Linked DNA regions of Homo sapiens. The protein of the gene in region 2 purifies or fractionates together with the protein of the main gene of each other region. This does not show direct contact. Each region holds a gene or a part of one and is shown on either strand. Other genes may lie near its edges.

Evidence for each region.
Region 1: the proteins of NLRX1 (region 2) and HERC4 purify together in Homo sapiens (affinity purification with mass spectrometry; 2 studies listed by BioGRID and IntAct, with this or other methods). This does not show direct contact.

Annotation. Positions count from the first base shown.
Region 1 is NC_000010.11:68,065,284-68,072,283, forward strand, and holds part of HERC4 (probable E3 ubiquitin-protein ligase HERC4), read right to left. Parts: intron 5,317-7,000; coding exon of another isoform or gene 5,210-5,316; exon of another isoform or gene 2,406-5,209; intron 1,935-2,405; exon of another isoform or gene 1,818-1,934; coding exon of another isoform or gene 1,802-1,817; intron 1-1,801. UniProt on the Homo sapiens protein: Probable E3 ubiquitin-protein ligase involved in either protein trafficking or in the distribution of cellular structures. Required for spermatozoon maturation and fertility, and for the removal of the cytoplasmic droplet of the spermatozoon.
Region 2 is NC_000011.10:119,171,701-119,188,441, reverse strand, and holds the end of NLRX1 (NLR family member X1 isoform 1 precursor), read right to left. Parts: intron 16,087-16,741; coding exon 16,017-16,086; intron 15,542-16,016; coding exon 15,453-15,541; intron 14,964-15,452; coding exon 14,344-14,963; intron 13,990-14,343; coding exon 13,168-13,989; intron 8,750-13,167; coding exon 8,154-8,749; intron 7,272-8,153; coding exon 7,185-7,271; intron 6,349-7,184; coding exon 6,097-6,348; intron 5,325-6,096; coding exon 5,003-5,324; 3' UTR 4,622-5,002; coding exon of another isoform or gene 4,462-4,621; 3' UTR 4,426-4,461; downstream 1-4,425. Other genes in the region: NHERF4 (Na(+)/H(+) exchange regulatory cofactor NHE-RF4), read right to left, coding at 1-87, 298-502, 742-878, 983-1,172, 1,752-2,279.

The DNA.
Region 1 (7,000 bases), on a different chromosome or scaffold from region 2:
AAAACAATTATGAAAAACTAAAAATATGTTATTTCAGAATAGTATAACACCTAGCAAAGGAATAAAATGAGGCAAAACTTAGATATGAATAAAAAAGTAATTAATATATTTTCAAATAATTTGTGAAAAGCCCATTCTAAAGGATTCCAGAATGTCTTATGGCCAAGAAAGGCTAAACCAAAATTCTGCCATGCTAGAAATGAACACAAAAGAGTAAATCTAGGCAAATAAAACTTATGGTTTAAAGAATAAGCCACCGAAATGCAAGAAATTTCCCATTAAAACAAAAACAAACAAACTCTAATAAGGCCTGGCGTGGTGGTTCATGCCTATAATCCCAGCACTTTGGGAGTCTGAGGTGCGAGGATCACTTCGAGACCAGCTTGGGCAAAAGAGTGGAACCCTGTCTCTATAAAAAATACAAAAATATGCTGGGCATGGTGGCATGCACATGTGGTCCCAGCTACTCAGCAGGCTGAGATAAGAGGATTCCTGAACCCAGGGAAGTCGAGGCTGCATTGAGCCACGATTTAACCACTGTACTCCAGTGACAACAAGATCCTGTCTAAAAAAACAAAACAAAACTCCAATAAAATGTCTGTATAATTACACACAGCATAGGTTTTTCTCGCATATAAGGTAATTATCATAACTCATTACAATTTAAAATTAATTATTGCCTTTTAAATTTCATCAAAATGAAAAAAAAAAATCCAGGGGAACAGAAAGAAGGTCAACCATGAGCTCATTAATATAGTTTCCTCATTAGTGTTACCCATTTTTCTACTAACATTATCCAAGCCCAAATAAACTCTTATATAAACATTTGAGTACACCTCCTCTATTAGATTCTTTCATACATATCCCAAGCACTTGATATACTTTATAGCCTAGGAATACAGAAGTAACTTTTGTGTCTTCAAAGCAGTTTTAAAAATACATGCCTTTGTGAGAAATGAGCTTTAAAAACAGTGCTACATTTGTATGATATATTGGGAATACAGAACCTAAGAATCTTTACTAAGGAGATAATGGTAACTAGACTACCTAGACTGCCATCTGCAACAAGAATCTGCTAAGTACCCAAATTGTAAAACCAAATCTACCACACTGCTGATCTTTTAAGGAAAGTATGTGGCTCACTTCTAATCATGTAAAAACACTAACATACCCAAGAGAAAATCACTGGTTCCAAGTACTTTAAAGAAGTTTCCCTTTGTTAGACTGCTCAGATTAGGCATCTACTGCTATTTTTGTCTTCTGTGTAGGTTTTAAGAGTTTTATAAAGCATCCACCAAACCAATGCATCTTAGAGAGAGATGCATGTATCTACATGGCGGACTTTATACAACATAACTAATCCAAGTTCCAAGGTTAGCCACCAAATCAATTCTGCAAGTCAGTTACTATGGACCTTGGCTTGTAGTACAGCATAGCAGTTAGACAAGGGGATATATACAATATATAACAGAAAAGAGAAAAGACTGGGCATTACCATAGTTAAGTTTCTGTTCGTTTGTTCAAATATTCTTCATACCACACAGAGTTATACTGAAGTATCAAAGTGGTATCAGAATGTAAGCATCTTGGTAAAATAATGATTTAACAGGCCATCAAATCGAATGGCAGGGAAACAATCTGTGCACTAGTATTTGACCTGCCTCAAACAGAAGATATTACTGTAAATAATTCTAAACATAAGCACAATTTAGTGAATAAGGTAGGAGACTGGTAGACTCTAACTTTCAGATTCAACTTATAGCTGTTCACCAGTCATCTGCTATTTTGACAAGTTACTTACCAACGTGTGCTGCCATTTCTCCGTAAATTTATCCCCTAAGATGAGGATAATTCTTGCAAATTGTGTCACAAGCATTTTGAAAGGAACCATGAGTTATTGTGTAATGCTCTTGAAATTCCTCAGATGTAGGGTCCTACACAAAGTAAAGTATTATTATACATTTCTCTAACGGTAGTCATCTGTTTGCATTATGATTTTTTTTCCTACCCTTGACACTGTGATTCTTGGGCACTAACCTTTCTCAAAGTAAAGCGTTCAAAGCAAGCCTCCACTCCTGACCCAAGTAATTACTTTTTTCAAATCTATCATCCACATCTTTCTCTTCCTTAGAAGGTATTGTGAAAACCGGGAGTTATAAAACGCAATGAGCTTCTTTGGTTTAAATGTTCTGGTTCAGTAAGAAATGTGTGGGATAATCTGGTATTTTTATTTTTAACCCACCCTTAAGTGAGTAACTTTATTTCCCATAGTTATATTTTCCTATATTACTTTTTAAATTTCAACTATATTTTAAGGAGCAGCTCGTTTATAAATTTGTTTTATGAACAGAGAGAACAGGTCAGAAAAATGAAGAAGCAAGAAAGGCAAGCCAAGTAATCACTACTATGTGACCAAAATGCTTTTATTGGAATGACTCAACAGTAGAAATTACCATTCGAGGATATGGAAAACAAAGAATCAATGCTCATCATCTTTAAAAAGAGTTCAACATAAACCACAATAAATTTTATCATACTATTAAAACTATTACCTATAAACTCTGCCAATCGAGTTAGTCTTCCATTCAGTAATACACTATACATATTTGAATTTTTTAGCTTTTGTTGGTACAATATTACATCTTGAAAATAGAACTCTCGATCTTCTTATCAGTTCTTAAAATGATTTTTAAGTTTGTGTACAAGGGGGAAGACAATAAAATATGCTGTCTTCATTGTATAAGCTTAGTTATAAGATAGTAATTTTTTAAAGATTTTTCTTGGCTGCCACAGTAGCTCATCCCTATAAATCCCAGCAATTTGGGGAAGCCAGGACAGGAGGATAGCTTGAGGACTGGAGTTTGAGACCAGACTGGGCAACATAGGGAGACCCCCTTCTCTAACAAACATAAAAAAATTGGCCAGGCCTGGTGGCTCATGCCTGTAATCCCAGCACTTTGGGAGACCGAGGTGGGCAGATCACCTGAGGTCAGGAGTTCGAGACCCCCCTGGCCAACATGGTGAAACCCTGTCTCTACTAAAACTACAAAAAAATTAGCCAGGTGTGGTGGCACACACCTGTAGTCCCAGCTACTCGGGAGGCTGAGACAGGAGAATCACTTGAACCTGGGAGGTGGAGGCTGCAGTGAGCAGAGATCACACCACTGCACGCCAGCCTGGGTAACAGAGCAAGACTCCGTTTCAAAAAAAAAAAAAAAAAAAAAAAATTAGCCAGGCATGGTGGCACATAAGTGTAGTCCCAACTACTGGGGAAGCTGAGGCAGGAGGATCACTTGAGCCCAGGAGTCCAAGGCTACAGTGAGCTATTATCACGCCACTGCACTCTACCCTAAGCAACAGAATAAGACCCCATCTCAAAAAAATATAAAAAATAAAAAACCCTCAGAATTACAATAAAATACTGATGGAAACCAGCTTCCTCAAAGGTGAACAAATATTCTTTTACCTTCTAAATGTAGCAAAGGAAAAGATTTGTGAGATTAAGGATAAAAACCACAAGATTTAGGGTGGTCTCAAGATGTGCTAGCCAAGTGACCCTATTAGTCTCTTAATCTCTTTTAACCTCAGTGTCCTCATCTGTAAAATGCGGACCATGATACCTGCCTTAGCTACATACAACTGTTGTGAGAATTAAATGAGATACTCCATTTGAAAGAATGTTGTAAAACACAAAAAACTGTTTTTTAGATAACAGGGCTTGTTTTTAAACAGAACACCACTTTATTTACAAATTATGGTCACAGAACAGTTTAGTACTGTTTCTAACATGAAACAAATGGAAATCAATGTGCAAAACATAACCATGGTCACCAAATTATACCTATGATTAGATACACAGTAAGAAAAGGATCTTGTAAAGAAAAGTATACTTCCCATACTTAAAATCTTCAGAACTGAATTTGAAAGTATAAAAAAACAACAATTCATTTAAATGGATTGGTCTAGCGCACTGAAGATTAAATATATTTGTTAGCTATAAATTTAAAAATTGAGACATTAGCTTAAAAAGTATTTTAAAGTTCTTATGAAGAAAAAAACATGAAAGTGAAACAGACATTCACTTCTCTGGAAATAATTCAGAAAAGCCAGTAGTGATAGAAAAGGACATACATATACAAGACAACAGAGATGAACATGAACATAATCTGCACCTTTAGTATAATAAAGGAATTCAGTTAAATCTTTCTGTGTGGTCCCTAAAAAGTCCAGAACAGAAACACCTCTTTTCAATAGGCCACAGGTTAAATCTATTCACTACATTGTCAGGCCAAGTCCTCCAGTAGGTTATTATGAATCTCGAGAATAATTTATCCTTAATAAGGCTACCTCTTTCTCCTTCATTCCTTATTAGTTATGGAATATGTATATTTATAAAGCCAACCTATGTAAAGAAACAATTCTTAGTTCCCTCCATTCCATGTGCTTTCTGACACAAGTTTAAAGTTCTTGTGAAGTCAGCTGGGCACGGTGGCTCACGCCTGTAATCCCAGCACTCTGGGAGGCCAAGGCGGGCAGATCACAAGGTCAGGATATCAAGACCATCCTGGCTAACACGGTGAAACCCCGTCCCTACTAAAAATATAAAAAATTACCCGGGCATGGTGGCACGCCCCTATAGTCCCACCTACTCGGGAGGCCGAGGCAGGAGAATCGCTTGAACCTGGGAGGCGGAGGTTGCAGTGAGCAGAGATCGTGCCACTGCATTCCAGCCTGGGCAACAGAGTGAGACTCTGTCTCAAACAAAACGAAACAAAACAAAACAAAACAAAAACCTCCTGGGAAATGAACTATGTTTATTACATTGTCCCAGAAATATAACCAACTTGCTCAATTACCAGAAGACTTTAAAATAAATAAGATCCAACAACTTTTTATCTTTTAATCCAGTCCTCAAATTCACAAATTTAAAAAGGGGTTGGGGAAATGACACAAATCATTAACGAATTATTCCAAATATAAATAACTTTAGTTAAAAACATTCTTAAAATTTAGTTAAAAACATTATTTAAAAAACATCTTAGGCCAGGAGCAGTGGCTCATGCCTGTAATTCCAGCACTTCGGGAGGCCAAGGCAGGCGGATCACCTGAGGTCAGGAGTTCGAGACCAGCCTGGCCAACATGGTAAAACCCCATCTCCATTAAAATATGAAAAGTAGCCAGGCATTGTGGTGGGCGCCTGTAATCCCAGCTATTCGGGAGGCTGAGGCAGGAGAATTGCTTGAACCTGGGAGGCAGAGGTTGCGGTGAGCCGAGATGGCGCCATTGCACTCCGGCCTGGGAAACAAGAGCGAAACTCTGTCTCAAAAAAAAAAATAAAAATAAAAATAAATAAATAAATAAATATTCAATCAAAGCTGAGATTAAAAGATGAAGTTCCTATCACAGCAACTACTACTTTTTGAACTTGTTTCTCTTCCCTCTGAAACCTAGGTTCACTTCAATATATCATCGAACCAGAACTTCTGATAATAAAAAGCTTTTCTCAGGATCAGGACCCCCCCCTTCTACAAAACTATTTCAGCTCCAGACTTATTTCCTAGCTGTTTATGTGATCACCAATAGAATTAAATGTAAGCCTTCATTTTCTCCCAGAAATCTTACTTTAATTCTATCCCATAATATTTCCCATCATTTAAATGTCCTAGGCTCAAAGTGCATGGCACATCATGTCTAATTTCCAGTTCTCTCCAGTTGTTCATGTATACCTTAACTCCCAACCCAGACTCTAAATTTCTCAAGACAAAGCTAATGCCTGTCACTTTTCTCTTCCACAGGCTGTGGTGTAATCGGGACAACAATGAGGCAATCCTAAAGAGGTATCCCAAATTAGGGAAACCCACTGCCCCAACTTTACATTACCAAATAATGGTTCCAGGATGAATCAAGATGATATAGATGTCACAGTGCAATCATCACAATGTCAACATGACCACAAAGAAGCCTATTCTAGCTAGTTAAGTTTCTCAGAATCTCATCTATACAGTTGGAGGCTGTTCCTGGCACTATAATCATTATACTACTAGTACACAGTGTCTACCTCTAACACTTAAACATTTTAAACCTCAGTAGACCTAAGTAACTATACTGGCAATTTCTATGTGCTGGCTTTTTACTTTCTACTTGCCCTATGGCCTTTCAGAAATTATTAAAGTAATACAGAGAGATGTTCAGTTATTTCTATGGGGCATGCTAAAGTACAAAGAACAGCAGTAGCCTCCGTACCATGAAAATCTCAACCTGAGGCAGCATTCCAAGCTAAGCAAAAATAGTAAAGGGCCCATTTGTCTCTGGAGCAGAGACAATCATCAAATGCGTATCAGTAAATTACCATTCATTTCTACCAATATGACCACCTCAATGCCTGAGATCATGAAAATCTGGTAGGAATCCATAAAATGTTCTTAGACAGGTAGAGTACAAGAAAGCTGCCATTTACTTTGAGTTCTGCAAGAATTAAAAATCTATTTTATGAATGTCACTATCATTTATCCAATAAAAAATAAATTACAAATTAAGGCAGAAGAAAATACACTAAGACCTTAACCACAAAGAAAGGATGAAAACGATACAGTATTTGCAAGTTAGAAAAGTGAGATTTGGCATGGTCGTGAGATGATGTGAAGGATGAATCGTGCCTTAATTTAATGCCTGAATATCTTAGATTACATTAATCTCTCAAAAGCTGAGTAACAACAGAAACCACCTAATTAATAAACTGATAAAATAACTGCCACAGAAAATACTGAAGTGCCATTATTGTTACAGTTAAAATAAACAGTAAGTCAGTATAGCTGCAGTCTCATCTGAATTTACCACCTGAAATCATTAACTTTTAGTTATCATAATTGAAAGCAAAACTCACATAACAATGATACTCCTAAATGTAGAAATATTTGATTTTAAAATACAATATCCAGGAACAGAACATGAAATGTGACCAAATTCCTCAAAATTCTCATTACCCTACAAATTATTTAAT
Region 2 (16,741 bases):
CCCCAGCCACAGCCACCAGCCGGTCCCCAGCCTGCATCCCAGCCTTCTTGGCTGGCAGTCCCGGGTCCACCTCCCACAGGAACTGTCCTGGGGCATAGACATCCTCACTGCTCCTCTCCAGCTATCCTAGGCCACTGTGTACACACCAGGGGACTGACCCCAGAGTGAACGGGAAGAGGCGGCCCAGGGCCAGAGCTCAGACAGGGACACCTCTTCGGTGCACTGAAAGGTGTATATACGCTTGTGTGCCCACCCCAAGGCCCACCTTCCCCCACCGCCCCCAGGGCTCCCACTCACCAGGGCGACCGTCAAGGCCCTTTTCCTCCCGGAGCAGGAACCCAAAACCCTGGGGCCCTTTCTCCAGGTGCAGGCAGCGGGGCTTGGTGGGCAGTGCCCAGCCCTCTGCCAGGGGTGCAGCCAGGGGCAATCCCAGCTGGCGACACTGTTCTTCCACCTCTGGCCCTGCCACCAGCAAGGTCACCTGCTGTCCACTCTGCCAAAGCTGTGGGGACCCAGCAGGGCATCAGTATAACACCTGGGCAGGGAGAGAAGAGGTATGCTCCCCCCACAGCCCCTCCTCCCAGGCACTAAGTGGAGCCTGGCACAAACTGTAGAGGGGGAGGATGGTGATAAAGGTAGGAGACCAGATAAGGAGGTTAGGCGCATGGGGAAGGAGGCGTCTTCCCGAGGTGGGGCCCAGGCCCGGATTGGGGGAGGAGAGTGGGAGACAGGCAGTCACACCTTCCTGGTGAGTTGGTTGTGAGTGAACTTCTCCACACTGACCCCATTCACTTCCAGCAGCCGGGCCCCGGGGGGCACCCCTGCCCGCTCAGCTGCTCCTCCAGTACTTAGCACCAACCAGAAAGGACCCTGATTGCCTAGAAATTAAAAAAAAAAGCAAGGTCCAGTCTGTTTCCTGCCTGCCCTGAACAGGGGCTGAGATCCCTCATCCTTGCCGCCCCCTCGCACCCTCTGGGCTCACCATGGGTGACACTGAAGCCAAAACCACCCTCATCTTTCACTATGTGGCACAGCCGGGGCCGGACCCCTGGGCCTAGGGTGGGACAGAGGTGGGCATCTTCTCCCAGCTGAGCTCGGGCCACGTCATGTGCATGCCGTGCCAATACTGTCAGCAACACCCGAGGGCTGCTGGCCCGGATGCGGCGTACCACCTGGACAGAGGGCACGTGGGCGTGGGTTTGGTCTAGACCCTCTTGCCAACCCCCAGGACCTCCCTGGAATCCACATTTTTTTGCCAAGGGAATCGGCTTTTTTTCTTTTTCTTTTTTTTTTTTTTTTTTGAGATGGAGTTTTGCTCTTGTCGCCCAGGTTGGAGTGCAATGGTGCGATCTCAGCTCACCGCAACCTCCGCCTCCCATGTTCAAGTGATTCTCCTGCCTCAGCCCTCCCGAGTAGCTGGGATTACAGGCGCCTGCCACCACGCCCAGCTAATTTCTGTATTTTTAGTAGAGACAGGGTCTTGCCATGTTGGCCAGGCTGGTCTTGAACTCCTGACCTTGGGTGATCCACCTGCCTTGGCCTCCCAAAGTGCTGGGATTACAGGCGTGAGCCACTGCGCCCAGCGGGAATCGGCTTTCTAGATGCTTTCCCTACCCCTCTGACTTGGGCACTTCTAAATCCTGGGGTGTGGGGGAGTGAGGCTTGTGCCCTGCTGCCATACTGCCCAGGGGACTGAGCAACCCGCTTCTCTTTCTGAGGTGCTAGCATGCTCTCCTGGACCACAGCCTTACCACCGCATAGTCTTCGTGTTCCACAACATCATTGTTCACCGCCAGGATCCTGTCTCCTTCCTGAAGACCCTGGCGCTGGGCAGAGGTGCCTGGGTCCACCCTGCACACCACATGCCCAGCCCTGCCCAGCTCCTGCTGCAGGTGGAAGCCAAAACTCTTGCCCTCCTCTTTGCTCAGTAAACAGAAGCGAGGCCGCTCCAGGCTCCAGGGATCTGGAGGGTGAGGTGGGCAGCAGAAAAGGGGGAGGAGAGGGCACAGCCCAAGTACAGGTTCGCCGTGTGCCTGGCAGACCCTGTGTCCTGATAGGGTGCTGGGCAGTTTCTGCCTGGTTGGGTGTTGGGTGGTGGGGTTCGTGGGCAGAGGGACTGGGACAGGAGAAAACACCCGGCCCCTCCTATCTCTACTCCCAACCAAGGCTGTTATCAGAGGGAGACCGAGTGAGTGGTTACCAAGGAGATCGGAGGCCGTGTGGAGCCGTGGTGCCTCCAGGGATAGGGAATGGTTGCCAGGGGGTGAGGGAGTTACCATAGGGGTCGTGGTCTTCGGCCAGGGAGAGGACAGGATTATCAATGCCCAGCTTTGGGTTAAACTTAAACTTCCTGCAAGGAGGCAGGGGAAGCAGGTACAAGCTGGCAGCTGGACTTGGGTCCCAGGATCTCCTTTAGGTGCTAATGGCAGTGAAGCGCTTCGCTGCCTCCAATTATTTCCTCCCCTTGCCCCAACCCTCGTGGCACTTACAGAGTTAACGAGGCTGTGTCCTGCAGATCTACTGGGCAAAGAAGTGGGTGAGAGGAGGAGAGTCACATTCTTCTCCCCAGATGTGCCTCTTCCATTGGCATAAACTAAAAGGACTCAGGGAAACCCCCAAACTCAGGGCATGCCCCCTCCTTTCTGCTCCAAAGGGGTCTTCTCTTCTCACTGCCATACACACAGGACTATTGTGCGGTCCCCTCCCTTTCTCTCCCCCCAAGTCCTTGGCACATAAATCTGAGCATATCAGTACAGGGTGTGGACCAGGAAGACAGACATATCAACTCATTACTTTTCTCCTGACTTGTTTACCTGCCTCAGGGCTCCAAGCCCCAAAATCAAGTGTGCCCTGGTCCCAAAGCTTCAGCCTCCAAGTCGGCCCCCTGCCTGTCCCAAAGTCCCCTGCAGAGGATTTCTCCTGGCCTCCTACCTGCGGCTTTCTCCATAGCTGGATCAGCAACCCAGTGCCCGGGGTAGGGACAAGGTTCATCACAGCCACTGATCCTCCCACCCATCCCCTCCCAGGTCCCGCCTCCTTGAAGACGCTGTGGAAGCAGTGGGGTAATGGTTAACGGGAGTGAGAGTCTTTTTTTTTTTTTTTTTTTTTTTTTTTTTTTGAGACCGAGTTTAGCTCTTGTTGCCCAGGCTGGAGTGCAATGGCATGATCTTGGCTCATCATAACCTCTGCCTCCCAGGTTCAAGCAATTCTCCTGCCTCAGCCTCCCGAGTAGCTGGGATTACAGGCATGCACCACCACACCTGGCTAATTTTGTATTTTTAGTAGAGATGGGGTTTCTCCATATTAGTCAGGCTGGTCTCAAACTCCCCACCTCAGGTGATCTGCCCTCATCGGCCTCCCAAAGTGCTGGGATTACAGGCGTCAGCCACCGTGCCCCGCTGAGAGTCTTATCCTCTGGAAAACTGTGTGGGTTCCTCCTGAATCTATCCCTGGGCCCCAACTTTTTCTGGAGACCCTGAATCTGACCCAGTTGCCCCTCTGTGCAGAGAAAGGCAGATTGCTGGTCACTAACTCCAAGCCTGGGGGGTAAGTGTGAAAAGGGTGATAATTCTATGGCCCATAGTATGGTTTGGCTGTGTCCCTACCCAAATCTCATCTTGAATTGCAGCTCCCATAACTCCCTCGTGTCATGGGAGGTACCCGGTGGGAGGTAATTAAATCACAGGGGCAGGTTTTCCCGTGCTGTTTTCATGATAGTGAATAAGTCTCATGAGATTTGATGGTTTTATAAAGGGGAGTTCCCCGGCACACACTCTCTTGCCTGCTGCTATGTAAGATGTGACTTTGCTCCTCATTTGCCTTCTGCCACGATTGTGAGGCCTCCCCAGCTATGTGGAACTGTGAGTCAATTAAACCTCTTTCGTTTATAAATTTTTTTTTTGACAGAGTTTCACTCTTGTTCTCCAGGCTGGAGTGCAGTGGCACTATCTCGGCTCACGGCAACCTCCACCTCCTGGGTTCAAGCAATACTCTTGCTTCAGCCTCTCGAGTAGCTGGGATTACAAGCATGTGCCATCACACCCAGCTAATTTTGTATTTTTAGTAGAGACGAGGTCTATCCATGTCGGTCAGGCTGGTCTCAAACTCCTGACCTCAGGTGATCCGCTCACCTCGGCCTCCCAAAGTGCTGGGATTACGGGCGTGAGTCACCATGCCCAGCCTCCTTTATAAATTACTTACCCTGTCTTGGGTATGTCTTTATTAGCAGCGTGAGACTGGACTAATACAGCCCAGCATGGCCAACCCCCATGCCAATATCTTGTTCATGGGCCCTTCCAGCCTCCACTGCCTCTGAACCTAGTGCCCAAGAACCACTTGCAATAGATCATGGTTGGTAGTTTAACCAGAAAGACCAAGAACAGTGCCCTTTCTTGGAAGCACCAGGCAGTAAAGAAGAGGCCACAATTGGTAGAAGGCACACGGCTTTTTAATAGCAGCAAGTCAGGTGCATCTGCCTCGAGGGGCTACCAAGCCATCATACCATTGTGGCAAAGGGGGCATGAGGATGAGGAGAAAGCACCAATGTGAGGGCATCCTCGGTGTCCACAGGTGAGCATAAGGCAGGAGGGGAAGCTTCCAACACATCTGGATGGCGACACCCCTGGCATGGCAGACATAAGATGTGAGCCCCTTGGTGACACAGTCAGAGGCTCTTTGAGAGGAGGGGGAGGCAAGGTTGGTAGTGGTGCTTCAGGGCACTCTGGCCATCCAAATGCCACATGCTTTGGTCCTTCTAGCTGAATGGAGAGGAGGCATGTTCCATCTCCAAGCCCGAAGCATTGATTCACCATCTTTAACTTGGAGATTCCAGACTCAGTCCTGGTCAAACATGCCCTAGGAGGGCAACTGGCTCAGCTATGCCCATTCCTCTGCCTCCAGACCTGAAGGAATCTTTCTAGAGGGAGCAGTGCAAGCCAGGAGGCCACAGAGGGAAAAGGTTTAGGGCCAGTGGTCACATAGCTAGGTGCCTGCCGCCAGTGTCTCAGCTTCCAGAGCTTCCCAGCTGCTCCAGGAGGGCCCTGACCTCGCCCTCCACTCGCAGCAGCTGGGCCTTGCGCCAAGGATTAAGGGTGGCACCCCGGCTATCTTCCAGATCCCGCAGTAGGAGCTCAAGGTGTCGCTGAACCCGGGCCCGATCCCAGCTATTGAGGTTCCGCTGGACTTCACTGAGGATCACTGACCAGTATTCTGACACCGCCGTCCCCTCTGTCAGTGACACCACCACCCGGGCACCACCTTCAGCAGCACCCCCCAAGTCTCGCAAGACCTGGCGGCCCTCTGAGCTCAGCTCATTGAAGTAGAGGCTGGCAGGAGAGAGAAAGTCGATGCCATTCAGTAGAGCTCTGAGAAGGAGGGCCCGAGGGTAGATGGATGGAAAGTCAGGGGGCCTCACAACTCATCTCCTGGCTGCAGAGTGCGATCAGGTAACTGCAATGAGCCAGAGGTGGAGGCTGCTGGCCAGTGGGAGGCAGGGACTAATACTAAAATTCTTTTTTTTTTTTGTTTTTGTTTTTGTTTTTGTTTTTGTTTTTTTTGAGATGGAGTCTTGCTCTGTCACCCAGGCTGGAGTGCAGTGGCATGATCTCGGCTTACTGCAACCTCCACCTGCCGGGTTCAGGTGATTCTCCTGCCTCAGCCTCCCAAGTAGCTGGGATTACAGGTGCGCACCACCACACCCAGATAATTTTTGTATTTTTAGTAGAAACGGGGTTTCACCATGTTGGCCAGACTGGTCTTGAACTCCTGACCTCAGGTGATGTGCCCGCCTTGGCCCCCCGAAGTGCTGGGATTACAGACGTGAGCCACCACAGCCGACCCTGATACTAGAATTCAGTGGGACCAGAGACAGTAGGGCTTTAGGAGAAATGGTGGTAGGGAATTGGTGCAGTTTAAGCGCCAGTCACAGAGGGGGTGGGTTGGCTCAGAGCTAGGTTGACAAGGATCAGTCAGAAACCAGGAATAAAGGACAGGCACCAGGCCCAGGCCCAGAAGCACTCCCTAGGATTGGAGGAGCACAGTTGAGAGAGGGAAGTAGTCTGAAGGGCTGGGGGCAATGGGACCAGGGACAGGACTCACTGTAGCAGTTCCAGGGAAGGGTGCTCCCGGGCAGCTCTGGCCAGGGCCAGGGCCGCTGTGTCACCAGCACCGTTGTACGCCACGTTCAGCTCCTGCAGCTGCCGGTTGCGGTCCAGCTGGGCAGCCAGCAGCTCCAGGCCTTCGTCCCCAAGGCCCGTGTGCAGCAGGGACAGGTGCGTCACTGAGGTGTTTCCTGCCAGCCCCTCCATTAGCACGGCAACACCTGCCGCCGTCAGCGGGTTGTTGGACAGCCTACAGCCACGTGCAACCCAAGGTTATGAGGGCTCATTGAGAGGAGGGGGAGGCAAGGTTGGGGGTGGTACTGGCAGCCTTAATGGGGCAGCCCTGTGCTGGGTGTCAGGACTTGGGCCAAAGAGGGCCCTGCATGGGGCAAGAGGAACCTGGACATAGAAATGCAGGCCCAGGAGAAAGGCTGGAGCAATAGGGGGTGTGGCGCCTGGCAGAGGAGTCAGAGTAGGGGAGCTGGCCTTTCCTTCCCTCTTCCCCTGACTCCCTTCTTATCTATTCCCTTCCTTTTCACCATTTCCGTTTCCCTTTTTCTGCCTTTTTCACCCCCTCCACAGCCTCTGCTTCTCCCTCCCCTCTGACTCCCCTATCCTTCTCCCTGCTCTTCCTTTTTCTCTCCTCATTTGCCTCCCCTTACACCAATCAGAAACTGGGAACCCAGGAGCTCAGGTTCCCCACATATCAGTCAACACTTAAGGGGTGTCTACTGAGTGCCCAGCATTAGGGTCCTCCTCGGGAGGCTGCAAGAAAAATCCTGGGAGGGGATCAGTGGCACTGTTACCAGGCAACCGGCCTAGGTATTATTCCACCCTCTCTCCCCACCTCCCCCAGGCTGATTTTAGCCACGTGAGAGGTTTCTTAGCACCCATTACAGGTGGCATGTTTCCCTGCTGCCCTGCTGCTTGCAGTGGACCTGGGGGAAGTGGAGGGGACAGGTCAGGGCCTAGACTCTCCTCCATTTACTATCCCTTGGGTGGGTCTGTGCCAAGTATGTCAGGAAGCAGGGAGCTCACCCTTGACCTTAGCTGGCCACCAGGATGCCCCACTCCCAGGTCACTCACCGCAGTGTGGTAATTTGGCACTGGTCATGCAGCAACAGGTCTCGGAGGTCCTTGCAGGCCTCAGGGCCCAGGCTGTTGAGTTGCAAGCTGGAGCAGAAGGTGGCCAGAGGGGAGGTGAGAGACCAGGGAGGGAATTCAGCAGGCAGTCTGTCCATCTACCATGCCTTTTTTTCATCAGCCTGCCTCTGGGAATCTATACCTGCTTCCCCTTTTTTGAGAGACAGGGTCTCACTCTGTTGCCCAGGTTGGAGCACAATGGCATGATCACAACTCACTGCAGCCTCAGACTCCTGGGCTCAAGCAATCCTCCCACCTCAGCCTCCCGAGTAGCTGGGATGATAGCTACATGCCACCACACCTGACTAATTTTTTAATTTTTTGTAGAGACAGGGTCTTGCTATGTTGCCCAGGATGGTCTCAGACTATTAGGCTCAAGTGATGCTTCTGCCTTGGCCTCCCAAAGCAGTGGGATTACAGGCAGGAGCCACCATGCCTGGCTCCTCCCTTCTGTTGCTCCTGTCACCTCCACCCAAACTAGACTTTTTTTTTTTTTTTTGAGACGGAGTTTTGCTGTTGTTGCCCAGGCTGGAGTGCGATGGCATGATCTCAGCTCACCGCAACCTCCGCCTCCCAGGTTCAAGCAATTCTCCTGCCTCAGCCTCCCAAGTAGCTGGGATTACAGGCATGCACCACCATGCCTGGCTAATTTTGTATTTTTAGTAGAGACAGGGTTTCTCCATGTTGAGGCTGGTCTCGAACTCCTGACCTCAGGTGATACGCCCGCCTTGGGCTCCCAAAGTGCTGGGATTACAGGTGTGAGCCACTGCTCCCGGCCCCTAAACTAGACTTCTTCATCCCACCTTCTGGTCACTCATCGGTACCTCTGGTTTCCCTGGCACTTTCTTTTCCCACTTCTTCACCTCCAACCCTCTTCCCTCTTCATGCCTGTGCATGAGGATAGGTCCTCACCCCAGCTTCCGGGCACGCAGGAAGACAGGCAGGAGTGTGCGCAGCCCAGCAGGATCTAGCTGGCAGGAGGCCAAGTTCACCTCATCCAGGGCATGCCTTCCGCTGCCCAGCACAGCTGCCACCACTGTGCACTTGACTGGTGTCATGCGCACACCTGCCAGGTTGAGCTGACGCAGGGAGCTGAGCACCTCAGCGGAGAAGCGCTGGTTCTGGAACTCATAGTGGAAGAAGAGGTGGTCAAGGAGCTCTGATGGGGGCAGCACCTGCCGGCCCAGCTTGCCCAGCTTCTTCTTGATGGCCTGGGCATTCTCCAGGGCATCCAGGTTCTTGATGGGGCAGCCAAGCTGAGCTAGCACAGCTCGGTTGTGGGCAGAGAGAAGCCCCCCCATGAACATGGGGAAGAGCTCGAAGACTTCATCCTCAGGGGGCTCATCTGGGTGGCGCCGGGGGCCCTCCACGCCCAGGATACTGGCGCCCATCTGGTCCAGAACATCATCGTTGTAGTAGTCCTCCTCTCGAAACATCTCCAGCACCATGGCCTGAGCCACCGCCTCCCGGCTTTTACCCACCATGCGCCCAAACACTCGTGGAACCACCTGAAAAAGAAGCAGGGGAGAGTCACTGTGGCCTTCCATGTGCCTGTTCAGCCTTCAAGGTTCAGCTTAAGGTACACTCCCATGACTGCTCCAGCCCTGTGATCTCCCCTTGAACTTAGCATAATTTGTCTGATCATGCTACTCCCCTGCTGCGACACCTTCCATGGCTCCCTACTGCCTATGTGGCAAACTCCAAACATTTAGCCTGGAATATGAAACGTTTCTTAAAACTAGAGATGGGGTCTTGCTGTGTCACCTAAGCTGGTCTTGAACTTCTGGGCTCCCTAGCTTAGGCCCCCCAAAGTGCTAGGATTATAGGCATAAGCCACTGCACCTGGCCCAAAACTTTTCATAATTTGGCCCTAATTTGACCTTTCCAGGGTCATCTCTCAACACCTGTCTCATGTGCTGCAGACATTAGGAACTTCTTTCTCTTTCCCAAACACCCTGATACATTTTCAAACCCAGGAGGTGGTGAGAAGGAATTAGCATGTATTACACACTTAGTTTGGGACCGGGCTAGGTATCACAAATACATCACCATCTTCAACATGCAGTTCCTACTGCTTTAAGGGCCTGTGTGATCTGGGCCCTGCCGACTACGATGCCTTCATCACAAGCCTCTTGGCCCCACTCGCTATGCTCCTGCCCTTTCGGCTTTTTTCATCTTAACAGTGCCAAGGTTTTTCCTCCTTCAAAGCCTCCATAGGCCAGGTGCAGTGGCTCATGCCCGTAATCCCAGCACTTAGGGAGGCCGAGGTGGGAGGATCACTTGAGCCCAGGAGTTCTAGACCAGCCTGGGCAATGTAGCAAGATGCCATCTCTATTAAAAAAATTTTCTTAATTAAAAATAAATTAGCCAGGCATGGTGGCATGTGCCTGTAGTCCCTTGAGCACTGGAGGTCAGGGATGCAGTGAGCTGAGATCACACCACTGAACTCCAGCCTGGGCAACAGAGCAAGACCCTGTCTCAAGAGAAAAAAAAAAAAAAAAAGCCTCCAGGGTGCTGCCCTTTCCTGGGGCATTTCCCCTCCCCCAACTTCTTCCTTTGGCTAATGCTACAAGGGTCAGACGACATGCCCTTCCACAAAGAGGCTCTCCTGACCCCGCAGACCAGTTCCCCCACTATACACTTTCATGGCATCTGGGGCTCCTTCTTCCCAGGCATTTGCTGTAATTTTTCCTTATATGGTTACATTGATATTTTTGTGCTCAAACTGTGCAGGAAGTAGCAGTTTCCTTCTGGGAGAGGAGCTCAGACTAGATCAGAAAGGGCTGAAACCTGTAGTTTTGTTAACTGACATTTCCTCAGATTCTAACACATTGCCTGGCACACAGCAGGCACTCAAATATCTGACAAAGAAATAAATGTTGGGGGTTTGTGATATCTTCCCCCATTCCTGCAATGGTTCTGAAAGGGAAGAAGGGTCATTCCTCTGGCAACAAACCATGACGTTGTTTTGTGGCACGTCCTTTAACATCTGGGTTTTTTTTACTTTTTAATGTTTTAATTTTTATTTGTTTAGAGACAGAGTCTTGCTGTGTCACCTAGGCTGGAGTGCAGTGGTGTGATCATAGCTCACTGTAGCCTTTAACTCTTAGGCTCAAGCGATCCTCCTGCCTTGGCCTCCTGACAGCTGTGACTACAAGTGTGCCCCACTGCACCTGGCTTGTTTTCATGTTTATATGTGAGGTTACTCTCATAGAGGTGATAGTGCCCCTTCTCCAACACCAACCTGTGACAGAATATGTCACCCTGTGAAGCTGAATCCACAGGATGGTGAATAAACAGATGGGCTCAGTGCTCTGCCAGGGCAACCCTCCCTCCAAGAGGGCTTGGGGGTGCAGGGCTGACAATTCTGCTGGGTTTTCAATAACTGGGGGCTTTCTGAATCCCCTCGGGAGACTGCAGCCTCTCGTTGCAACTCAGGTCCGGCAGGCACATCCTCAAGGCGGGGTGGCCTCAGCAGCAGCTGTGACCTCCTGTCGGAGGTGATGTGTGAGAAGGGGTGGGCTGCCCGAGCCTGTTTCTTTGTTTCTTTCTTTTTTCTTTTTTTTTTTTTGTGAGACAGAGTCTCGCTCTGTCACCCAGGCTGGAGTACAGTGGCGCGATCTCAGCTCACTGCAACCTCCACTTCCTGGGCTCAAGAGATTCTCCTGCCTCAGCCTCCCGAGTAGCTGGGATTACAGACACGTGCCACCACACCCGGCTAATTTTTGTATTTTTAGTAGAGATGGGGTTTCACCATGTTGGCCAGGCTGGTCTGGAACTAAGTCTGTTTCTATGTGTGACAAACAATTAAACAGCATAGGCCGGGCGTGGTGGCTCACTCCTGTAATCCCAGCACTGTGGGAGGCTGAGGTGGGTGGATCACCTGAGGTCAGGAGTTCAAGACCAGTCTGGCCAACATGGAGAAACCCTGTCTCTACTAAAAATACAAAAATAAGCCGGGCATGGTGGCAGGTGCCTGTAGTCCCAGCTACTTGGGAGGCTGAGCTGGGAGAATCACTTAAATCCGGGAGGTGGAGGTTGCAGTGAGCAGAGACGGTGCCACTGCACTCCAGCCTGGGCGACAGAGCGAGACTCCATCTCAAAAAAACAAACAAACAAAAAACAATTAAATAGCACTTACCATGTCCTAGACCCTGAGGATGAGTTCATTTCATCTTCATATTAGGCCAGTGATATAAGTTCTAGTATTATCTCCATTTCACAGATAAGGAATCTGAGGCACAGAACTAAGTAACCTGTCCAAAGTCTCACAGCTAATAAGTAGCAGAGCCTGGATTTGAACTCAAATAGCTGAGTTACCAAATCCCTGTTCTTAGCCCTTATGCTTTGGTGCCTATAAAAATAAAAAGTTGGCTGGGCACAGTGGTTCACACCTGTAGCCCAGCACTTTGGGAGGCCAAAGTGAGAGGATCACTAGTGAGACCCCATCTCTACAAAATTAAAAATTTTTTATTTTTTAATTTAATTTAATTTTGTTATTATTATTTTTTTATTTTTGAGAGGGAGTCTCTGTTGCTCAGGCTGGAGTGCAGTGGCGCAATCTTGGCTCACTGCAACCTCTGCCTCCCAGGCTCAAGCAATTCTCCCGTCTCAGCCTCCCAAGTAGCTGGGATTACAGGCACCCGGCACCACACTTGGTTAACCATGTTGGCCAGGTTGGTCTCAAACTCCTGACCTCAGGTGATCTACCTGCCTCGCCTCTCAAAGTGCTGGGATTACAGGCGTGAGCCACTGCACCCGGCTACAAAATTAAAATTTTAAAAATTAGCTGGGGATGGTGGCACATGCCTGAGGTCCCAGCTACTCAGTGAAGTTGAGGTGGGAGGATTGCTTGAGCCCAGAAGGTCGAAGCTGCAGTGAGCTATGATTGCACCACTGCACTCTAGGCCTGGGCAACAGAGTAAGACTCTGTCTCAAAAAATAAAAATAAAAATACATTTAAATTTTTAAAAAGTGTTGAAATTCTGCCAGCACTAACCAGCACTCTGCCTCCTCAAAATGCGTTGCTGAAACATTCCTAGAGAAAACAAAGGTTACCTAGCAAGGTCCCACAGCTCGACAGACATATCCGTAATGCACCAGTATAGTTTGGCAGAAAGAGCACAGGATTCAGAATCACAAAGCCCTGGGCTTTTAAACTTACTATTTGAGTGATCTTGGACAAGTTACTTTACCTCTCTGAGCCTCAGTTTATTCATCTATAAAAGGGATCATAATAGTATTTCCTTTCCAGGAGTAATGTGAAAAACAAAAGGATGAACACTGATAACGCGCCTGGCACACATCACACAGAGTGGCTCCTTCCAGCCCTCAAAGACCTCGCTCAGCTGTGCCACTCACAGCACAGTCCTCAGGTCTGTAATTTGGTTTCTGGAGTGGACCTGCCCTCATGATGACTCCCCTAAGCCAATTACCAATGCCATTTATCTTCCTAGTATAAATGAATAAAATGGCATCTGCTTTATAAACCCGTCTCTGGTGATTTAGTTAGGATGAGTCATCACTCTCAGAGCCTAATCACCTCTGGAGGAGCAGACACAATCGAGTTTCTGGACCTGCAAAGCAGAGGATAGGCCTGCCTCCTAGGAGGAAAGACACAAAAAGGAAACCATTTTTAGGAATCCATGTAGCATTATTATTAAAGTCCCCACGTCCCCAGGTTCCCTTCCCCAGCCACCAAGCCTTCCCCAGCCTTGTGGCTTCTCTCTCTGCAATCCCACTAAAAGCCAAAATGCTCAGAGCTGAAACCAGATCCAGGGAGAAGATTCATACCTTTGCAGGAAGCAGCAGTTTCCTGCTGGGAGAGGAGCAAGGGGTGAACAGGGAACCATGTGGGGGCGTGGGCGGCTTGGGGTGCTGGGGAGGGAAGGAGCAGGTTGGGGGGTTACCTTGATCGGGATGTTACCTTGATCAGGTTGAAGAGCAGAGGCAGAGCCCGCAGAGGCAGCAGCTTGGCCATGATGCCCAGTACCAGGCTGACGTCCTCCCCAACACGGCCCACGAGCTCAGCCACTTCCTTGCCCACCTTTTGCAGGGTCGTCTTGCGCAAACCCAGCACAATGTAGAGGGCAGCCAGGTATTCCTGCATGGCGGGCACGGTGAACACGAAGGTGCCTGCACGCCCTGGCTCCACACATGGGGCCAGGAAAAACCTCAGGGCATCCCGACGGAAGATGTGCAGCAGCTGAAACTCCTCCTCCGTCCTGATGCCAGCCTCCAGGCAGCCACAGACATCCTCTTCAGAGAAGTAGGTCTTGCGGGAGGACACCCCCTCATAGGCCAACTTGCCCATGGTTCGGGCTGCATAGGCCATCAGGGACAAATTGGAGGGGTCAGTGCTGTCCAGGGTTTCCCCGCTGAAGTTGAGGCGCAGGAAGCTGGTATAGATGCTTGTAAGGGTCTGCCCAGCAGGCGTGGGGGCATGCAGGAAGTGCAAGGTGGCACAAACGAGCCAGCAATAGGACGGCAGGAAGCAGGCAGCGGCTATCTGGTGGTGCCCCTCCAGGTTCCGGGAGAGCATCTGCACCAGGTGGTCACGCTGAGCTGGTGTGGCAGAGACACCTGAACCGCCAACGGCATACCCGCAGTACGGCTGGTTGAGGCGGAGCTGGAAGTAGAGCTTCTGCAGGTTGGTATCAGAGAAACCGCAGATCTCACCATAGCGGCCCACGTACTTGCTGGGGATACGGCCAATGGCAGAGGGCCGAGTGGTCACCAGAATGCTGGCCTGGGAAGAGCATGGTTGAGAGTTAAGAAAGACCTTAGTGTCCTGTTGACTGCTTCTATTCCCAGGGGACCCCTGAAGACGGAGTGTCCAAGGATGAAGACATTGATGAGGATAACAGTTATAACTAGCAATTACTGAACACCTGCTGTGATCCAGGCCGCTGTGCTAATATTATATGCAGTACCCCATTTGATCAGAGCAACTCAAAAAGAAAGGAACAGAAGGCTGGGGAAGTTACTGACTTGCTCAGGGTCGCACCACTGGGAAGTGAAGGGACCAGGAGTTAAAGTAACCCAGGACCTAGGGGGCGAGTCAACGGGCAGCAGTGATAACCTGGGGTAAAGGGCCACCCACCTGAGGCAGCATGTATTTGCGCAGCAGGTTGACGATGATAGCAGCTGGTTCCTGCGGTTCCTCCGGGTCACTACAAAGTCCCGTGCCTGCCAGCCGGAAGTCGAGGTTGAGATGCTCTAAGCCATGGAGCACAAAGAGGAGGTGGGACCCAGCAGCAGCCATCAGGGGCAGAACCTCCTTCAGGGGCGTGTAGCGCTGGGCCACAAGTTGGCACAGGGAGGCTGGGGCAGGGCCCAGGGATGACAGGTCCTCACAGGAGAAGGGGATGAGCAGCTCGAAGGCCGGCAGCCGCCCATAACACCAGTCCAGAACCATCTTGCGCACCAGCGTGCTCTTGCCTGTGCCCACTGTCCCATACAGCACCACTGTCTGCACCCGGCGCCCACAGGCATCCGGGTTAAAGAGCTGAGACAAGGCCAGTGGGGGGAGCCCGGCCTGGGGTGGCTGATGCTCCAGGGCCAGCTCCGCGGGTGGGCGAAGTAGCTCATCAGGGGTACTCTCGCGGATCACAGGGTCAACGTGGACCGTGTCTAGGGCAAAGGTTGGGCCAAACTGGCGCTCCTCCCTGGGCAGCCGGCTGAACCACTCAGCCAGGTTCCGGCGGTGCCGCTGTATAGCTTCTGAGTGGGAAGATAAGGGAAATGTGTCAGGGAAAGGGGCCTGGAGATGTAGCTTAGGGCCAATCAGGGCGGTGGTGAGGTCAGGCTGGGACATCACGGCATAGATGCTGGGGCCCACAATGGTGGGCACACAAGACTCCCTGAGAAAATATAGACTGTCCAGAAAGTCTGGAACCCCTATGTCAGAAAGTGGGAAGCCACTGGACAAACTGGTTTCACAGTGACCTATGTGCCGTCTTAACCTGCTTGACCCAACTTTGTTGAGCATAGGGATGGTATGGCTCTCCTAGCGCTTTGTACATATAAGTGTGCATTGCAAGAGTATTGCAGGAAGGGATACATAGACGGATGGGAGGGAGAGAGAGAGAGGAGGAGGGACCACCGATGGAAGATGGCAGTGGATCCTCTATGCCTCCCTCACCCTGCTTCTCCTTCCAGCCCCGTCTGCCCACCACACCCCCTGACCAGGGTCCCAGCCAGTCCCTTTACCAGTTGCAGAGGCGCTGGGGAACAGCCGTCCATGCCTCCCGGGTGGGGGAGCGCTATCTACCGAGCTTCCGTGGTGGCGTATAAAGGCCCTGGGAACAAGGAGAGGGGATGAGCTGGGACTTGTAACTTGGATCAGCCCCTTCACAGGCTCTGGGTCCAAGCCTATCTGCACTGCTAGACTTCTGGTTTCCTGAGATAAAGGCCCCACACTGGACCCCCAAGTTTAGAGGCTTGTCTGACTCTCACACCCTTCCCAGGTGCTGAGGCCTTAGCCCTAGCCCTCCAGACCCCACTGCTGACTGCCCGCCTGGAACTCAGGCTGGCCATGTGAGGCTCCACCCACTTCCCACAGGGTCCTCCCTCCACTGACTACTATGCCTTCTACCACAGATGATCTAAGCCAACTTCCTCTCAGGCCTTGGAGCTGCCACTGTCCTCCCACCCCCAAAGGACCAAGCCCCTCCCCAAGGTCCCCAAGAGATCAAGCTAGCCCCAAGTCCTGACCCTTCCCAGTCTGCTCTGTTGTGCCCAGACTAGTCCTAAGGTATGACACCCAGGCCTCACCTAGGGGGCCCAAAGGGACGCTCCCCTTGAAGGGGCCAACTCCAGTGGATCAGGAAGGGGATACGATCATCTACAGAGAGAAGGAAGAAATAGCATCTGCAGATCCCATGCAATACACAGAACCCATGTCTACATCAAACCCCCCAGTATTTGCTCTCATAGCAGCATGTACTGCCCCTTTGCAGCAGTTATTTTGCAATTTTATATTTCATTGTGTGATTATTCGATTAACATTCATTCCTCTCTCCTCCATGAGAGGGATCACATTTGGGTGTTTTAAAATTTTTTTGTCCCCTTTACGTCTGTTTTTGTTCACAATTATTTACTTAGAACTTAACACCAGGTCTGCGGTACGGCAGGCACTCAGTAAATCTCTGTTGTATGTAAAGTAAAATCAGACAAGTTCCTAGACTTATGTAGCTACAAGAGACTCTCGAAGATGATCTAGTCCAACTCTCTTTTTTTTTTTTTGAGACAGAGTCTTACTCTATTGTCCAGGCTGGAGTGCAATGGTGCGATCTCAGCTCACTGCAACTTCTGCCTCCCGGTTCAAATGATTCTCCTGCCTCAGCCTCCCAACTAGCTGGGATTACAGGTGTGCACCACTACACCTGGTTAATTTTTTTTTTTGTAGTTTTAATAGAGACAGGGTTTCACCATGTTGCCAGGCTGGTCTCAAACTCCTGATCTTGTGATCCGCCTGCCTCGGCCTTCCAAAGTGCTAG